Linked DNA regions of Homo sapiens. The protein of the gene in region 1 interacts with the protein of each later gene in a pairwise test. Each region holds a gene or a part of one and is shown in the gene's direction. Other genes may lie near its edges.

Evidence for each region.
Region 2: the proteins of P4HA3 (region 1) and STMN3 interact in binary tests that used the Homo sapiens proteins (3 or more experiments, as listed by UniProt).

The regions. Positions count from the first base shown.
Region 1 is NC_000011.10:74,301,414-74,305,217, reverse strand, and holds part of P4HA3 (prolyl 4-hydroxylase subunit alpha-3 isoform 1 precursor), read left to right. Parts: intron 1-805; coding exon 806-948; intron 949-2,625; coding exon 2,626-2,849; intron 2,850-3,804. UniProt on the Homo sapiens protein: Catalyzes the post-translational formation of 4-hydroxyproline in -Xaa-Pro-Gly- sequences in collagens and other proteins.
Region 2 is NC_000020.11:63,639,034-63,643,550, reverse strand, and holds the end of STMN3 (stathmin-3), read left to right. Parts: intron 1-1,251; coding exon 1,252-1,443; intron 1,444-2,153; coding exon 2,154-2,213; 3' UTR 2,214-3,839; downstream 3,840-4,517. UniProt on the Homo sapiens protein: Exhibits microtubule-destabilizing activity, which is antagonized by STAT3.

The DNA.
Region 1 (3,804 bases):
GGATGAGCTGCCCTGCCTGCACAGCTGCAGCATTATATGCTCACTTCTCTCATAGCAGAGAGGTCCCCAACCCCTGGGCCAGGGACCGGTACCAGTCCATGGCCTGTTAGGAGGCGGGCCCCCCAGCAGGAGGTGAGTGGTGGGCAAGGGAGCATTACTCTTTGAGCTCCACCTCCTGTCAGATCAGCCACGGCATTAGATTCTCATAGGAGCGTGAACCTTATTGTGAACTGCACATGTGAGGGATCTAGGTTGTGTGCTCCTTATAGGAATCTAACTGGTACCTGATGATCTGAGGTGGAACAGTTTCATCCCGAAACCATCCCCCAACCCCCCGGTCCGTGGAAAAAATTGTTTTCCATGAAACTAGTCCCTGGTGCCAAAAAGGTTGGGGACCACTATATAGCACATATCACAGTGGTTATAATTAATTCAATAGTGTTTTTGAGTTTCTACCAGATACTAAGTATTGCATATACAGTGATGACAGGAGAAAAAGACTTTGTGATCCCTTTGAGAGCTGGACCCTGTCTTGCCTTTATATCTCTAGCATGGTGCCTGAAATACAGTAATTGATTAATATAGACTGACTCATTCAGTGAACAAAAGAGTGGACCTACTTTTGTTGTATCTATAGTTTTCATATTCTTTGGGCTTGCATGGCTTTTTGGTTGGACTATTATGTGAATCTCAAGAGGTTCAGCATGTCAGTGTTAGCTACTCTTAATGTACACACACCATGCCAGCCTTCCCTAGGTGTAGTGGTTGTATCAGGAGGTGAGATCATTCTACTCCTTTCTTTCAGATTCTACGACAAGGTACTTTCTTTGCATGAGGATTCAACAACCCCTGTGGCTAACCCTCTGCTTGCATTTACTCTCATCAAACGCCTGCAGTCTGACTGGAGGAATGTGGTACATAGTCTGGAGGCCAGTGAGAACATCCGAGGTAATGAGGAGGAGGGCTGGAGGGTAAGAGAGAAGATTCTATCTCCTGACTCGGTGGTAAGGAGAGAGATTCTGTTGGGATGTGATTTCAAAGGGTAATGGAGTAGGTGGGTATTACTTAATATCCTTAGCTCTAGCTAGCACAAAGAATTAGGCCCGCTTGCTAATCAGTTTATATGATTATACCTTAGAAAGCACTTTCATATCAATTGTCTCATTTGATGTTCACTACAATCCTGTGACAAAGTACAAGCCTTCCATTTATATATGTATAGAAAATAACGGTCTTCTAGTAGTTTCTGTTTCATTAAATTGTCACTACAGTGTCATCTATAGCAAGATCACTTTCCTAATTTATTCTACTTTGTGCTGTAAGAAGTTTGTTGACGGCCAGGCGCGGTGGCTCACACCTGTATTGCAGCACTTTGGGAGGCTGAGGTGGGCTGATCACTTGAGGTCAGGAGTTCCAGACCAGCCTAACCAACATAGTGAAACCCTGTCGCTATCAAAAATACAAAAATTACCGGGGAGTCGTGGGATTACATGCCTGTAATCCCAGCTACTCGGGAGCTGAGGCAGGAGAATTGCTTGAATCCGGGAGGCAGAGGTTGCAGTGAGCCAAGATCGCACCACTGCACTCCAGCCTGGGGTGACAGAGCGAGACTTTGTCTCAAAAAAAAAAAAAGTGTTGACTTTTGGGCTGGGCACAGTGGTTCATGCCTGTAATCCCAGCACTTTGGGAGGCTAAGATTGCTTGAGCTCAGGAGTTCGAGACTAGCCTGGGCAATATAGCGAAACCTATTAAAAATAACAAAAATTAGCCAGGCATGGTGGCGCATGCCTGTAGACTTGGGAAGCTGAGGCACAAGAATTGCTTGAACCCAGAAGGTGGAGGTTGCAGTGAGCTGAGATTGCGCCACTGCTCTCTAGCCTGGGCGACTGAGCAAGACCCTGTCTCAAAAAAAAAAAAAAAAAAAAGAAGTTTGTTGATTTTTGGAAAGCTAACAGTGAGAAGAGTCTGGGTGTGGTTGCTCATGCCAATAATCTCAACACTTTGGGAGCTTGAGTTGGAAGGATCACTTGAGGCCAGAAGTTTGAGACCAGCCTGGGCAACATAGCAAGACCCTGTCTCTACAAAAAAATTTATTTAAATTAGATGGATGTGATGGCGTGTGCCTGAAGTCCTGCCTACTCAGAAGGCTGAGGTGAGAGGCTCACTTGAGCCCAGGAATTCAAGATTATAGTGAGCTATGATCATGCCAGTGTGCTCCAGCCTAGGCAACAGAACAAGATCCTATCTCTATTAAAAGAAAGAAAGAAAAGAAAGAAAAGAGGAGAGAAGAGAAAAAAAGAAAAGAAAAGAAAAAGAAAAAAAGAAAAAGAAAAAGAAGAGTTGTCTCCCTAAAGAGTGAGACTCCTGTAAACATACAGGATAGGACAATATAATGAAGCTGTATGCCTTAATTTTTATTCCTCATTCACTCATTCTGAATGTTCCTCATTCAGAATTGCATTAAGCATCCACCCTGTGCCAGGAACTGTGCTTGCCTCTGGGAACACAAAGACAAATCCAACTTGATGTCATTAAATATTTGAACAGGTGGTCATGCCTTACATGTATTAAATGCCCAACTCCTGTTTCTTGAATGCTGGGTTGATGTTTTTACTACTTTTACAGCTCTGAAGGATGGCTATGAGAAGGTGGAGCAAGACCTTCCAGCCTTTGAGGACCTTGAGGGAGCAGCAAGGGCCCTGATGCGGCTGCAGGACGTGTACATGCTCAATGTGAAAGGCCTGGCCCGAGGTGTCTTTCAGAGAGTCACTGGCTCTGCCATCACTGACCTGTACAGCCCCAAACGGCTCTTTTCTCTCACAGGGGATGACTGCTTCCAAGTTGGCAAGGTAACAATATTCAAGAGAGGGCCAATTGCTTGGCTCTGGTTTCTTATGGATAAAATAACTATGTACCGATTGATTTTACTTCTTTTTAATACTTACAGTAAACTTGGAAATTTGATATCATTTCCATTTTCAGAGAAAGAAAACAAGATTCAGAGAGGGTAAATAACTTGCCCTAAGATTATGCAATTTTAAGGGCAGAACTAAAGCTTGAACCCAGTCTTTTGACTCCAAATCTCAGGCCCTTTCCATAGTAGTTAAGGTGTTTATATACTTAGAACACTCTTGAGATTGAAAGGGGTGTTATTAATTATGCTAGAACAACAGACATGAACTAGGAAAAATGGTCCTTTGTTCACCCTAACTATAGCACCCTGCCAGTGCATGAACTCCTGGGTAGAAAGGGAAAGCAGGGGGTCAGGGACGCAAGGTTGGGGAAAAGGATAAGAGATGGTGATGGAAAGGTAAGATCACGGAAACAGCCTCCTGAGACTTTCTGGAATCCAATGCAACATTTCCTAAGCATTTGGAAGTACAAAATTAAAGTAGTGTCCAAAATCTAAGGCCATTCACTTTAACATTACTTGAGGAAATAGACTTCAGGAACACCCCCGCCCCCCATCTGAGGTATTTAACTGATCTTTGATTATAAGTTGTAATCACACGTGAGATCATTTTGTAATATACTCTTTGCCAGCCTTTGCTATAAAAAGCAATGGAGCAAATCCATTTTAACTTTGAAGATGTTTATTGCAGTAAGGTGTATTTTTCCTGACTCCTACAGTATTCATCAACAGATCTGGGAGTGGGTCTCATGTGTCCTGATTCCAAGTTTTGGGAGTCAGTCTTCCAAATTAAGGCAGAGTAGGCTGCTTGAGTCTCTCTACATACTGTTTTCTCTTTTCTGGGATCCTGAGTGGAATCAGAGCTCAATCATCATGTTCATGGCTGATTTAAA
Region 2 (4,517 bases), on another chromosome or scaffold:
CCAGAACTTTGGGAAGCTGAGGCAGGCAGATCACTTGAGGTTGGAAGTTCAAGATCAGCCTGGCCAACATGGTGAAACCCCATCTGTACTAAAAATACAAAATTAGCCAGGTGTGGTGGTGCACACCTGTAATCCCACCTACTAGGGAGTCTGAGGCAGGGGAATTGCTTGAACCCAAGAAGTGGAGGATGCAGTGAGCCGAGACTGCGCCACTGCACTCCTCAGCCCGGGCGACAGGGTGAGACTCCATTTCAAAAAACAAACAAGAACAAAAAAAGAAAGGGATGGAGAGGAGGAAGGGTTCCGAGGCGGCCACCTGGAAGGAGCAGGAGCCTCTGGTGAGGGTGGGAGGCACCCTTGTCAGGGCCAGCAGGATGCTAGGGGGTGGTCCCCAGATGGGCCCTGGGGACGTCGGGTGGGGCATCCCTCTCCCAGACAGGGAAGCTGGAGGAAGGGCCTCATGTGTGAAGACCCTGAGGCTTGCTGGAGGGCGGAGGGGCCCTGGGAGAGGTGGGTGTGGGCTCCAGGTCCCCTCCCTGCAGCCTCCCCTCCCACCAGCCCCTCTGAGACTGAAACAGAGATAAAAATGTCCTTTTGGGGGTGCCACCCTGGAGGCCAACGCATTGGGCAGGGGAAGCGGCTCCGTTCCCTTCCCGGTGAGGCCAGAGACCAGGGTTCACAGGGCTGACTAGTAGGGACTGGCATGTGGGTGCGGGTCCTGCTGCCCCGCTCTCCTCCCAGGGGTCACCAGCCGGCCCCTCCCCCAGCATCCCTGGGGACCCTCCGCTCCTGGGCACCTAATTGGGAGCTGGGAACCCGGTGTGTAACAAGCAGCTACTCTGCTCAGTGGGCGGATGTCCGAGGAAGAGACAAAGCTCAGAGACCGCCCACAAGTTTAGGGTTTCTTGCTGCTGGTCCTTGGAGGGGCAGACGCGCAGGGCAGGGTGTGCAGTGGCGGCAGGGTATGGCGGGGGCCCTGGGCGCAGCCAGGACCGCGGGACCCGCGCGCGAGGCAGGGACGGGGGCGGGGGCGGCGGATCGCGACCCCCTGGCCCTGCCCCGACCACAGGCCGGATGGCAGGCGAGGGTTCCCAGGGCAGCGCCCGGGGGTCCCGGCGCCCACCGAGGCCTGGGCAGGTGGAGGCGCCAGGTGAGGCGAGCGGGCGCTGGGCGGGAGGCGGAGAGCAGGGAGGAGTCCGGCCGGGCAGGGCCCGGGGTTGCCGCTCACGCGCGCCCGCCGGCCCCGCACAGACGCAGGAGGCGCAGGTGCTGAAGCAGCTGGCGGAGCGGCGCGAGCACGAGCGCGAGGTGCTGCACAAGGCGCTGGAGGAGAATAACAACTTCAGCCGCCAGGCGGAGGAGAAGCTCAACTACAAGATGGAGCTCAGCAAGGAGATCCGCGAGGCACACCTGGCCGCACTGCGCGAGCGGCTGCGCGAGAAGGTGCGGGGGCGGGGCCGGGGCGGAGCTCGGAGCGGGCAGGGGCCGGGGCGGGGCCGGGGCGAAGCTCGGAGCGGGCAGGGGCCGGGGCGGGGGCAGGGCTAGCAGCAGTCAGGGGGCGGGGCACTGGGCGGGGGCGGGGCCAGGGCGGAGCTCGGAGCGGGCAGGGGCCGGGGCGGGGCCGGGGCGGAGCTCGGAGCGGGCAGGGGCCGGGGCGGGGGCAGGGCTAGCAGCAGGCAGGGGGCGGGGCACTGGGCGGGGGCGGGGCTAGGGCGGAGCTCGGAGGGGCGCAGAGCGGGGCCGGGGACTCCGAGGCGCTGAGCTGGGGTGGGGGTCGGGGGCTCCTCCCGTGTTTACTGGGCGTCCCCAGCAGCGCACGAGGCAGGTCCAGAGTCTGGTCCTGGCGGGACAGTAACTAGCCGCAGTAATAGATGGCTAAATTCATTATATTGAAAGTGCCCTGAAGGAAGCTCGGCTCCGGTACGAGCTAGAAGCGGGGCCCAGCCAGCTCCCAGGAAACCCGTCCTTGGTCCCTGGCCTTGCTCTGCGCCTCCCCGGTGCTCCCGCCCCCTCAACTCAGTCAGGGTCCTGCCGAAGGCCAGCCCGGATGAGGCCGGGCGGGTGCCAGGGCGCCACGGCCTGCGCGCCTGGGGGTTCCCGGAGTCGCCCCAAGCCACCCCCGCCCTCAGGCCCTCCCGCCCCCTGTCCTGCAGGAGCTGCACGCGGCCGAGGTGCGCAGGAACAAGGAGCAGCGAGAAGAGATGTCGGGCTAAGGGCCCGGGACGGGCGGCGCCCATCCTGCGACAGAACACGTTCGGGTTTTGGTTTTGTTTCGTTCACCTCTGTCTAGATGCAACTTTTGTTCCTCCTCCCCCACCCCCGCCCCCAGCTTCATGCTTCTCTTCCGCACTCAGCCGCCCTGCCCTGTCCTCGTGGTGAGTCGCTGACCACGGCTTCCCCTGCAGGAGCCGCCGGGCGTGAGACGCGGTCCCTCGGTGCAGACACCAGGCCGGGCGCGGCTGGGTCCCCCGGGGGCCCTGTGAGAGAGGTGGCGGTGACCGTGGTAAACCCAGGGCGGTGGCGTGGGATCACGGGTCCTTACGCTGGGCTGTCTGGTCAGCACGTGCAGGTCAGGGCAGGTCCTCTGAGCCGGCGCCCCTGGCCAGCAGGCGAGGCTACAGTACCTGCTGTCTTTCCAGGGGGAAGGGGCTCCCCATGAGGGAGGGGCGACGGGGGAGGGGGGTGATGGTGCCTGGGAGCCTGCGTGTGCAGCCGGTGCTTGTTGAACTGGCAGGCGGGTGGGTGGGGGCTGCAGCTTTCCTTAATGTGGTTGCACAGGGGTCCTCTGAGACCACCTGGCGTGAGGTGGACACCCTGGGCCTTCCTGGAAGCCTGCAGTTGGGGGCCTGCCCTGAGTCTGCTGGGGAGTGGGCATTCTCTGCCAGGGACCCATGAGCAGGCTGCATGGTCTAGAGGTTGTGGGCAGCATGGACAGTCCCCCACTCAGAAGTGCAAGAGTTCCAAAGAGCCTCTGGCCCAGGCCCCTCCCCACCAGGGCTTTGCAGATGTCCTTGAAAGACCCACCCTAGAGCCCTTTGGAGTGCTGGCCCCTCCTGTGCCCTCTGCCCTGGTGGAAGCGGCAGCCACAAGTCCTCCTCAGGGAGCCCCAAGGGGGATTTTGTGGGACCGCTGCCCACAGATCCAGGTGTTGGAAGGGCAGCGGGTAAGGTTCCCAAGCCAGCCCCAACACCCTTCCCACTTGGCACCCAGAGGGGGCTGTGGGTGGAGGCCTGACTCCAGGCCTCTCCTGCCCACACCCTCTGGGCTGAGTTCCTTCTTTCCCTTGGACGCCCAGTGCTGGCCTTGGAGGACGGTCAGCTGGAGGATGGCGGTGGGGGAGGCTGTCTTTGTACCACTGCAGCATCCCCCACTTCTCCACGGAAGCCCCATCCCAAAGCTGCTGCCTGGCCCCTTGCTGTAAAGTGTGAAGGGGGCGGCTGAGTTCTCTTAGGACCCAGAGCCAGGGCCCTCAACTTCCATCCTGCGGGAGGCCTTGGCCGGGCACTGCCAGTGTCTTCCAGAGTCACACCCAGGGACCACGGGAGGATCCTGACCCCTGCAGGGCTCAGGGGTCAGCAGGGACCCACTGCCCCATCTCCCTCTCCCCACCAAGACAGCCCCAGAAGGAGCAGCCAGCTGGGATGGGAACCCAAGGCTGTCCACATCTGGCTTTTGTGGGACTCAGAAAGGGAAGCAGAACTGAGGGCTGGGATATTCCTCATGGTGGCAGCGCTCATAGCGAAAGCCTACTGTAATATGCACCCATCTCATCCACGTAGTAAAGTGAACTTAAAAATTCAATCAAATGAACAATTAAATAAACACCTGTGTGTTTAAGACATGGTTGAACTGTCTGTGTGTGTCCTGCACCTGTGGGGTCGGGGGCAGCTGCGGGCTCCCTGTCTGGGAGTGAAGATCTGCTCTGTGTGTATCTCCAGACTGAAGCTGGTTATAAATCTTATTTTATCATCATGATTATGAATTGTTCTATTGACAACAGTGATTTTAAGATATGAGCATGTAAACTACACACAAGCCCACTTTCCTCTCTGGAATCCAAGGGGTGAGGTGTCAGGGTGGGGGGTGGCAGGGCCCGCTGCTGTGGGTGGGGCTGGCGGGGGCTCCCCTGCCCTCCCTCAGGGCGGAGCCCTCCTCAGGGGCTTCCTGTTGTTCAGGACTCTGTGGCCCGCCGCTCAGGAGGAAAGGGCAGGGCCTACATATGTATGCATCTGAGGCTGGAGCCTCTAGGCTGTGGGACTTCCTGACATGGGGGCAGGTGCTACGAGACCCCTGGGGCTGCACCCCACTGTTCTGTGGACTCACCCCACTCACCCCATTCACCCCTGGGCAGCCGGTTGTTCACGGTCACAGGTCTGGACCCAGGATGGGGGACAGAGTAATAAAAAGTAAGAAGACGTTCTGGGCTGGGCGTGGTGGCTCAGGCCTGTAATCCCAGCACTTTGGGAGGCCGAGGGAGGTGGATCACCTGAGGTCAGGAGTTCAAGACCAGCCTGACC